Homo sapiens: one gene and its partner. The protein of the gene in region 1 purifies or fractionates together with the protein of each later gene. This does not show direct contact. Each region holds a gene or a part of one and is shown on either strand. Other genes may lie near its edges.

The links. The genes of interacting proteins can lie anywhere in the genome.
Region 2: the proteins of TAGAP (region 1) and CCDC43 purify together in Homo sapiens (affinity purification with mass spectrometry; one large-scale study listed by BioGRID and IntAct). This does not show direct contact.

What each region holds. Positions count from the first base shown.
Region 1 is NC_000006.12:159,037,745-159,042,553, reverse strand, and holds part of TAGAP (T-cell activation Rho GTPase-activating protein), read left to right. Parts: exon of another isoform or gene 1-309; coding exon 310-476; exon of another isoform or gene 477-756; intron 757-1,038; coding exon 1,039-1,200; intron 1,201-1,498; exon of another isoform or gene 1,499-1,635; intron 1,636-1,721; coding exon 1,722-1,831; intron 1,832-3,244; coding exon 3,245-3,440; coding exon of another isoform or gene 3,441-3,458; exon of another isoform or gene 3,459-3,649; intron 3,650-4,325; coding exon 4,326-4,440; intron 4,441-4,809. UniProt on the Homo sapiens protein: May function as a GTPase-activating protein and may play important roles during T-cell activation.
Region 2 is NC_000017.11:44,682,409-44,687,217, reverse strand, and holds part of CCDC43 (coiled-coil domain-containing protein 43), read left to right. Parts: intron 1-3,258; coding exon 3,259-3,346; intron 3,347-4,809.

The DNA.
Region 1 (4,809 bases):
TTAGGTTTTGCTAATTTTCTGTAGCAAACAGCTGGAAAGAGTGAAAACAGGAAAGGTGGAGGCCTTGAGGAACTCTGGTGTTGCTGTTTAGGGAACTGGTTGCCCTGGTAACAGTGTGGTTGTTTATCGGTTGGTTTTTCTAGATTAAGATTCACGCCCTTTGCTTTCTCAAGTTTTCAAAATTATTTTTCTCACATCGCATACTATTGACCACATTATGCGGCCAACGATACCCATTTTCTTACCTGGATCTTTGCTTCTTAACACTGTAGTCTAATTTTTCTCGTTGCCTTGTTTTCTTGGCTGTAGAAGTTAAGAAGAGAAAGAAGGTGCTGTCCTGGCCCTTTCTCATGAGAAGGCTCTCCCCTGCATCAGATTTTTCTGGGGCTTTGGAGACAGACTTGAAAGCATCGCTATTTGATCAGCCCTTGTCAATTATCTGCGGTGACAGTGACACACTCCCCAGACCCATCCAGGTAGGCGTGCATTCTCTCATAAACCTACTTCAGTTTTCAGTTGGACATGCAAAATACTCGGGAAATCTGAATGTCATTCTCCTATTAAGTTTGTAGGGACTGATCTTCCATATTTTCCACTCTTCAACATGGCACTCCCACATACGCGTGCAGTCAGAAGAATATCTGACTGCTTCCATTCCAGAAATTGAAATTAGTTGTATTTGCCAATGAGCTCAGAGCTATGGTCCCGCCATTCCTCTGACTTCACAGAGTGGAGAATGCTGAAGATTTGTAGCTTCTGAAAAGTCAAAAGGGGGAAACAGAATATAGACTTTGTGATCTGAAATCCAATGTTCATATGGAAGTATTTGAAAGGAGAGAGCTCCAAAGTGATTTTAGAAAGTGCAAAATTAGAGCTTTCACAATTTGCCTCCTCTTAGAAAAATAGCAGGGTTGAGGAAGGCCATTGACAGCAACTGGACTGAAAGCAAAATCTGACATCAATATTCCTGTTAAGACTATCTCAGTATACTAAAGAAGAAGGGTAACCCTTTCCTGTTCCTATTGCTGTTTCCTTTAGGACATTCTCACTATTCTATGCCTTAAAGGCCCTTCAACGGAAGGGATATTCAGGAGAGCAGCCAACGAGAAAGCCCGTAAGGAGCTGAAGGAGGAGCTCAACTCTGGGGATGCGGTGGATCTGGAGAGGCTCCCCGTGCACCTCCTCGCTGTGGTCTTTAAGGTGAGTTCAACACACTTGCGCCAAATAACCTGCCAAGGGGCCCTGACACACTCATTCTCAGGATGCAAGAAATAGGCTCTTCTCCCCACACAGCAAGGTACACTGATCTTGGAGTTTAATTTTTTTCATTAAGCCCTTTATTTATTTATTTAGTAAGCACCTCTGTTTCTGTGACCTCAGATTCCAACAGAAAGTGATGCATTCTGCTCTCCCAAAACTTTGCCAAGTACGGGCAATTTGATTGTTCCGTGGCAGAATCCATACGTCAAAATCCAGTGGCCCCTCAGAACACACCCACCTGGGGATGGTGCCTCTGACTCTGCCTGATGTTAGAAAGTTGCAGAGAGGCCAAGGGTGTTGGAGAGAGGGTTCCCTGGATTCATCAAATGCAGGAATGAAGGGCCACAATCTATGATGGGCTAAGCATAGAGCACCCTGCGATGGAACGAAAACCGGGTGAAAACAAGGACATGGGACATCATACAGTACCAATAGGCCAACAGCCCACTCTCATCCCCCAGGACTTCCTCAGAAGTATCCCCCGGAAGCTACTTTCAAGCGACCTCTTTGAGGAGTGGATGGGTGCTCTGGAGATGCAGGACGAGGAGGACAGAATCGAGGCCCTGAAACAGTAAGTCATCAAAGTCATCGGTCATTGCCAGGCCACATCACCTCCGTCTTTTGATTCTTTACACAGCTTTCTAAATGCTTCATGATCCCTGTTCCATGAGAATTGTGATGTTTAGGGAATCCGAGTGGAATTGCTCGTCCACTCCCAGAACAAAAACCAGAGGGTGCCCTGGACTTTTGAATTTTAATTTTAGCCAAATGAAATATTTCTTCAAAAAGTAGAAAGCGAACTTCAATCCTCACAAATCCCAAGAGGTAGGGAAGTCTGAAAATGTAAGATGTTCAAAAAGGTATGAGATAAAATCAGACCTGAGAACTTTAACACAGGCTCACCAGCAAAGTGTAGAAATTCGGGATTATCTTTAAGCTACACTGACTGGTGTCATGCAAGGCAACAGTTCTCCCATAAAACATCCCTCAGGATGCAGCCAGACAGTGTGGTGGGGGGCAGTTGTTTTGTTCATAAAACTTCACAGCATATTTCATCTTCTTATAATTAACCCAAATGAAAACTATATAATAACACATTCCAGTGAGAGTAAAAATAATAACATATGCAATGGAAAGTGTGATCTGTTAGTGACTAGAGAATTCTAAAACCCAAGCTTTGAAATGTCAGCATGGTTGTCACATCCTATGAAAGTTTATCTAAATGTTATAATTGTCCCACATGGCTAAATACTTTCAATGACATATGTATAGAATTGAAGACATTAAAATGTCTGTCCCAAAATGAAAATTCTAAGATTATCACAATGAGTTTCTACCTAGACATAAGGCATTTTTATAACAATTCCTTCTTCTGAGAAATGAAAATAATCACCATTTCGTTTTTGAAAAAGTGAGACTTTAAGAAGTCTAATTTCTTATCATTAGAAACAATGTTGCGATTTAAGTGCCGCCTTATATGAACATGCCCTTAGAAACTGATTTAGTCTTCATAAAGCTTTCTCAGAATGTTGTAAAAATGTGTCATCTTCGTTTGGTAATTATAGTTTTGTTTCCGTCTTTGTTTTAAGGCAAGAAAACCAGTCTAGTCGTGTTAGAAACAGAAAGAAATTCTACATGACTAAATGATTACTCAACAAAACTATTTTCTAAACATAAAGGCAAACTATGGTGTTTAATGCAGATTGGCTTCATAATTTAAGCTCTGTATAAATAATAAAGGGCTGTGTTATTGGTGTCCCAATTACAAAGGCCAGTTTCTTAGCTCCTCAAGACCTTGTGGTTAACCAGTCTCACTCTGTGTCAGTTGCCACTGGAAGTGTCTGAATGAGCATTTCACAATATTACTTGTGAAAATGCACCTTCCTCATTTTAAAGGAAGTCTGGTTTCGGCAGAAACTCTCAGCTTGCTACACTGAAGACCATTAGCCTTTTTGAAAACTAACATCCCTTCACTTTATTCCAGGGTTGCAGATAAGCTCCCCCGGCCCAACCTCCTGCTACTCAAGCACTTGGTCTATGTGCTGCACCTCATCAGCAAGAACTCTGAGGTGAACAGGATGGACTCCAGCAATCTGGCCATCTGCATTGGACCCAACATGCTCACCCTGGAGAATGACCAGAGCCTGTCATTTGAAGCCCAGAAGGACCTGAACAACAAGGTTTGTTCTGCTTACTGATGAGAAATCCCCAACTTATGATCTCACCATCTGTTTGCCAAGTCCAGGCAATAAAATGCTTCAGAATGTCTCCAACTGACTCAGAATCACAGTGAAAATATAAAATGCAAAATGCTTTTGTCATAGTTCCACTCTCTCAGATACATGTATCTAATGAAACTGAATAAATCCGTGTCTTCTGTCATCTGTGAGACAGATGAGTGCTGCGAGTATTTACATCACTCTCTCCCGATATAAAAAAGCCCTTTTGTTTTTGTGTTTTGTACACCACAGTCTATCAGTCTATCAATCTGGGACACTACTTACTTAAATGAAAATTTTATTAATACTTTAAATTTTTTTAAGTTCTTAAATTTAAAATGCATGTCTCAAAACACCAAGGAGTATCTAACTTTAATGTATGTGATTGTTGGCATGGTGGCTCACGTCTGAAATCTCAGCACTTTGGGAGGCCGAGGCAGGCGAATTGCCTGAGCTCAGGAGTTTGAGACCAGCCTGGGCAACATGACAAAACCCCGTCTCCACTAAAAATAGAAAAAATTAGCCAGGCGTGGTGGCGGGCGCCCGTAGTCCCAGCTGCTCGGAAGGCTGAGGCGGGAGAATCGCTTGAGCCCGGGAGGCAGAGGTTGCAGTGAGCTGAGATCAGGCTACTGCACTCCAGCCTGGTGACAGAGTGAAAGCCTGTCTCAAAAAAAAAAAAAAGTATCTGATTGTTACCAAATTTCTGTATGCTCTTTTCAGACACATAAAGATCTCAGATTCTCATTTTGGCACCTGACTCCAGTGTCCCCATTCTTCCTCACCTCCAAAAAAAAAAAAAAAAAAAAAAAGTCTTCAAGCTGACAAATTGCTTACTTTTCCTCACAGGTGAAGACACTGGTGGAATTCCTCATTGATAACTGCTTTGAAATATTTGGGGAGAACATTCCAGTGCATTCCAGTATCACTTCTGATGACTCCCTGGAGCACACTGACAGTTCAGGTATGGAATGTGCTATCATTTGATTACGATTGTAGGGAAAAGTTCATGCCAGTCTGCCAGTCATGTAAAGCATCTCTGATATTTGAGGCAGAAGTTACCTTCACAAATCACCGAGTCAGACTAGACTCCAGTCCATTAGGAAGTCATTAAACATGAAAACCCTGCTCCGGGCTTTTCCTGCAGCGCCTCCTCAGACCACAGATAGTCTTTCCCCCTTCCCAGTGTACATCGCAAATCACTGCTGATTTCACTAAGCTACCTTTAGCTCTGGAGTTGGAGTGAGAAACTTTTGTTTCCACTTCATGGGATATGACTCCATCACAATGAAAATGGGTCCAGTAAAAGGAGCAGTTTTAAAAATTAAGGTCA
Region 2 (4,809 bases), on another chromosome or scaffold:
ACCCATCTCAGTCTCTCAAAGTGCTGGGGCTATAGGCGTGAGCCACCACACCCAGCCATGCCTGGCTAATTAAAAAAAAAAAATTTTTTTTTGTAGAGACAGGGTTTTGCCATGTTGCTCAGGGTGGTCTTATGCTCCTGGGCTCAAGACATCCTCCTGCCTTGGCCTCCCAAAGTGCTGAGATTACAGATGTGAGCCTCTGTGCCTGACTTGGGCTAGGATTTAATATGAGGAATTTAGAAGTTTGTTAGCAATAATCTGAGGTAAAATTCAAGAACAGTGGCATATAGTTAGGAGCAAATAACAGTAAACAAAAACTTTTATCATCCTTCTCTTCAATAGTACTTGCATTGGTTGATTGATTTATCAAATTTTTATTGATGGATTACCGTATGCCAGGCACTACCCTAAGTGCTTGGGGCACTTCAAAGAATAAAACAGATAGAAATTCCTGCCCTCATGCGGTTACATTCTAGCATGGAAAAGCATCACTAGTAAATTATATAGTATGTTACAAAGTGATAAGTGCCAGGGAAAAAGGAGCATTGTAAGTAGGATAAACTTTCCTCTTAGTGCCTTGAACATAGCAGGCACCTTCTGTATAAATAAATGAAGGAATGGATGATTGAACTACATTGATTTGGATGAGGAGACTGAGGAAATAAACCACTTTGTCCTCTTAAGAGTTCCCGTTCTCTTTTGCCTCTCTGCTGCTCCTTTTCCTGCCATTCTTTTTCTTTTGGTGGGGGATTTTAAAAGAGCTGTACCACTTTCTCATCCTTTTTTCTTTTTCTGTTTCTTTGCTTTTCTTGCTGGTGGGGGTTGGGGGAAACCCATGAACTATTGAAACTCTGGACCAAGGAAGTTCTGTGTGTCTAGCATGTAGCTAAAAGGATGCAAGGTAGAGGAAGAAATCCTTTGCTGGGTACAAAATAAGGATATACATAATAAGTCTGTGTTCTGACTCTCCACTTTTCTTTGGGAGATGGTTAAGAACATGGGCTCGGCTGGGCGCGGTGGCTAACGCCTGTAATCCCAGCACTTTGGGAGGCCAAGGCAGGCGGATCACGAGGTCAGGAGATCGAAACCATCCTGGCTAACATGGTGAAACCCCGTCTCTACTAAAAATACAAAAAATTAGCTGGGCGTGGTGGCGGGCGCCTGTAGTCCCAGCTGCTTGGGAGGCTGAGGCAGGATAATGGCGTGAACCCAGGAGGCAGAGCTTGCATTGAGCCGAGATCGCGCCACTGCACTCCAGCCTGGGCAACAGAGCGAGACTCCGTCTCAAAAAAAAAAGAACATGGGCTCTAAGCCAAACTGCTGGGGTTCAAATTGTGTTTAATCCATTATTACTTGTAAGACCTTGGGCAAAGTAATTAACCTCTGTGCTTTGGTTTCCTCTTCTATAAATTGAGAGTAAAATAGTACTTAATGGCATTATTTTAATAATTGAGAGTTCTCATGTAAGGCTTTTAGAGCAGTGCCTGGCACATGGTAAATGCTTAATAAATGTGAATGCTGACAGCTTGCCCTGAGAGGTAGAACGTGAAGGTGGGGAATGCAGCCGTAATGAAGATGGAGGGAAGTGCTCGTGTTTATTAGATGCTTGTTCTTTGACAAGTAGGGTAGGCATTTATATACATTTTCATTTATCCTCAGTAAAATCCTGGGAGGATGTGAAGATCAGAAAGTTAAGAAACTTCCTCACAGATCTGGGATTTGAACTTAAGTATCTCTAACACTAAAGACAAGATTTTTGTTATATCATGCTGAGGAGGGAGATTGGTTGGTATGCAGAATATGTATGCTTCTCTAAAATGGACAGCGGGATGGTTGGACAAGAGACCATTTTGTCATGTATCTCCTCTTTATTATGTGTCAGCAAGCTAATGGATATGATCTAGCATGAAAGTTGATAACCTTAGGGAAGGTTCTGAATTGTATACGTCAGCCAAGGAATATTTCACAGAGGAGTTTTGACTTAGGGAACAGGTTTTTGCTCCAAAAGAATTGGGGGAGGTGGATGGGAAAAGGGAAGATTGTTGATCAAAGGGTATAAAATTGCAGTTAGACAGAAGGAATATACTTTAGTGATCTGTTGCATAGAATGGTGACTATAATAAGTAATAATCGGCTGGATGTGGTGGCCCAGGCCTGTAATCCCAACACTTTAGGGGGCCAAGATGGGAGGATTGCTTGAGGTCAGGAGCTGGAGACCAGCCTGGGTAAGATAGTGAGACCCCATCTTTTAAAAAAAACAACAAACTCAATTAGCCAGGTGTGGTAGTACATGCTTGCAGTCCTAGCTACTTGAGAGGCTGAGGCAGGAGGATTGCTTGAGCCCAGGAGTTTGAGGTTACAGTGAGCTGTGATTGCACCACTACACTCCAGCCTGGGTAACAGAGTGAGACCCTGTCTCTAAAAAGTAATAATAATAAATAAATAATAATGCATTGTATACTTCAAAATTACTAAAAGAGTACATTTTAAATGTTTTCTTTCTTTCTTTCTTTTTTTTTTTTGAGACAATTTCTCTCCCCTCTCCCAGGCTGGAGTGCAGTGGCGTGATCTCGGCTCACCACAACCTCTGCCTCCTGGGTTCAAGTTATTCTTGTGCCTCAGCCTCCCGAGTACTGTGATTACAGGCATGTGCCACCACACCCGGCTAATTTTTGTATTTTTAGTAGAGATGGGGTTTCAGCACGTTGGCCAGGCTGGTCTTGAACTCCCAGCTTCAAGTGATCCGCCCTCCTCAGCCTCCCAAAGTGCTGGGATTACAGGCGTAAGCCACTGCACCCAGCCTTAAATGTTTTCATCACCAAAAAAATGAGAAATATGTGAGGTGATAGATTTGTTAATTAGCTTGATTTAATTATTCTACAATGTGAACATATATTGAGACATCACAGGGTACCCTACATATATATAATATATACAGTTATTATTTGTCAATTAAAAATAAAATAAATATTTTAAGAGAGAATGAGGAAGGCTGCCCTGAGTTGGTATGAATCTTCCCTTGGAGCTTATCAGGATGGAGTGGCTGTTCTTGATGTAGGAGGTGTGGGTTCTGGGACACACAAGCAGGATCAATTCTGTGTCCAGAGCCTCAGAAAAGAAACATACTCTATTGTGGCTCCCAGACCCTTCCATAATTTCACAGCATGGAGAGCTGTGCTTTCTTCATAGGCTTTTTTGAGGTTACTATTGTTTTTGAGGGCTCCCTCAGGAAATTAATTGGTCTGCTTTTCCAACTAGGAAGAAGATTCCCTCCTTAATATCTGCAAGGAGATTGTGGAACGATGGTCAGAAACTCAGAATGTTGTCACCAAAGTGAAAAAAGAAGGTAGAGTCAGAGTTTCTGTGTTTAACTTCCTGAGCCTTTTCCAGCAGCCTTGACTGTATAGCTGTTAGGAAGAGATCTTTTCATTTTCCCCTTGGATGCTCATTTTCCCGAAGATAGTGTACACTGGCAAACACCCAACAGCCTGTGTTACCTTTACTGAACATTGGCTTCCTTTTCTTTTTTTGCATTTTTCCATTTCGACTGACCACAGTTTTCTTCATTGTGGTTTTTTACTTTTTCTTTTTCATCATCTTTCCACTGCTTCTTGTAGATTTGCATTGCAGGTATGGAGTCAACTATATTTTTACCACTTCCTACTTTTTTCATGTTGTCTTTTTTTTTTGAGACAGAGTCTTGCTGTGTCACCCAGGCTGGAGTGCAGTGGCGTAATCTCAGCTCACTGTAACTGCTGCCTCCCAGATTCAAGTGATTCTTGTGCCTCAGCCTCGTGAATAGCTGGGACTACAGGCTCATGTCACCATGCCTGGCTAATTTTTGTGTTTTTAGTAGAGATGGGGATTTCACCATGTTGACCAGGCTGGTCTCGAACTCCTGACCTCATGTGATCTGCCCACCTCAGCCTCCCAAAGTGCTGGGATTACAGGCATGAGCTACAGCACCCTGCCTCATGTTGTCATTTCATAACACAAATTATGGTTGGTATTTGGCTTTATTCAGCTAAACACTTTACCCTTTAAAATGGAAGAGAAATGGGCGAATATACCCACCACTAGGATGGTAAATTAGGTACAGAAAACTCAAATCATAAAAGCCAAATTTGGAAAGATTCTGAACTCTGTACACTGTTGGTTCTCAGTTTTGGCTGTATATTAGAATCACTTAATGTACCTGGGTTGGGGCCCAGGCATTTGTATTTTTTAAAAGCTCCTGTAGGTGATTCTAATGTGCAACCAAGTGTGAGAACTACTATTTTACACCATTGTTTCCTTTTCTTGAGACTGGAGAACTTACTAGTTGATTTTATTTTATAGCATGGCAAAATATTTTTTTTTTTGAGACGGAGTTTTGCTCTGTCGCCCAGGCTGGAGTGCAGTGGCGTGATCTCGGCTCACTGCAAGCTCCGCCTCCCCGGGTTCACGCCATTCTCCTGCCTCAGCCTCCCGAGTAGCTGGGACTACAGGCGCCCGTCACCACGCCTGGCTAATTTTTGTATTTTTAGTAGAGACGGGGTTTCACTGTGTTAGCCGGGATGGTCTCGATCTCCTGACCTCATGATCCACCTGCCTTGGCCTCCCAAAGTGTTGGGATTACAGGCGTGAGCCACCGCGCCCGGCCAAAATATTCTTAATCTAAGAATTCCACCTGGCATAATCAGAAACATAAACAGGACCAGCTTAAGTTGATTTTAGATTCCTGCTTAGGTTTTTGGGATGCCATGGGGAAGTTGAGTGTTCAGAGGCTTAGTTTTCTGTGGTTCTAATGCAGTGCTTTTCAACCTTTTT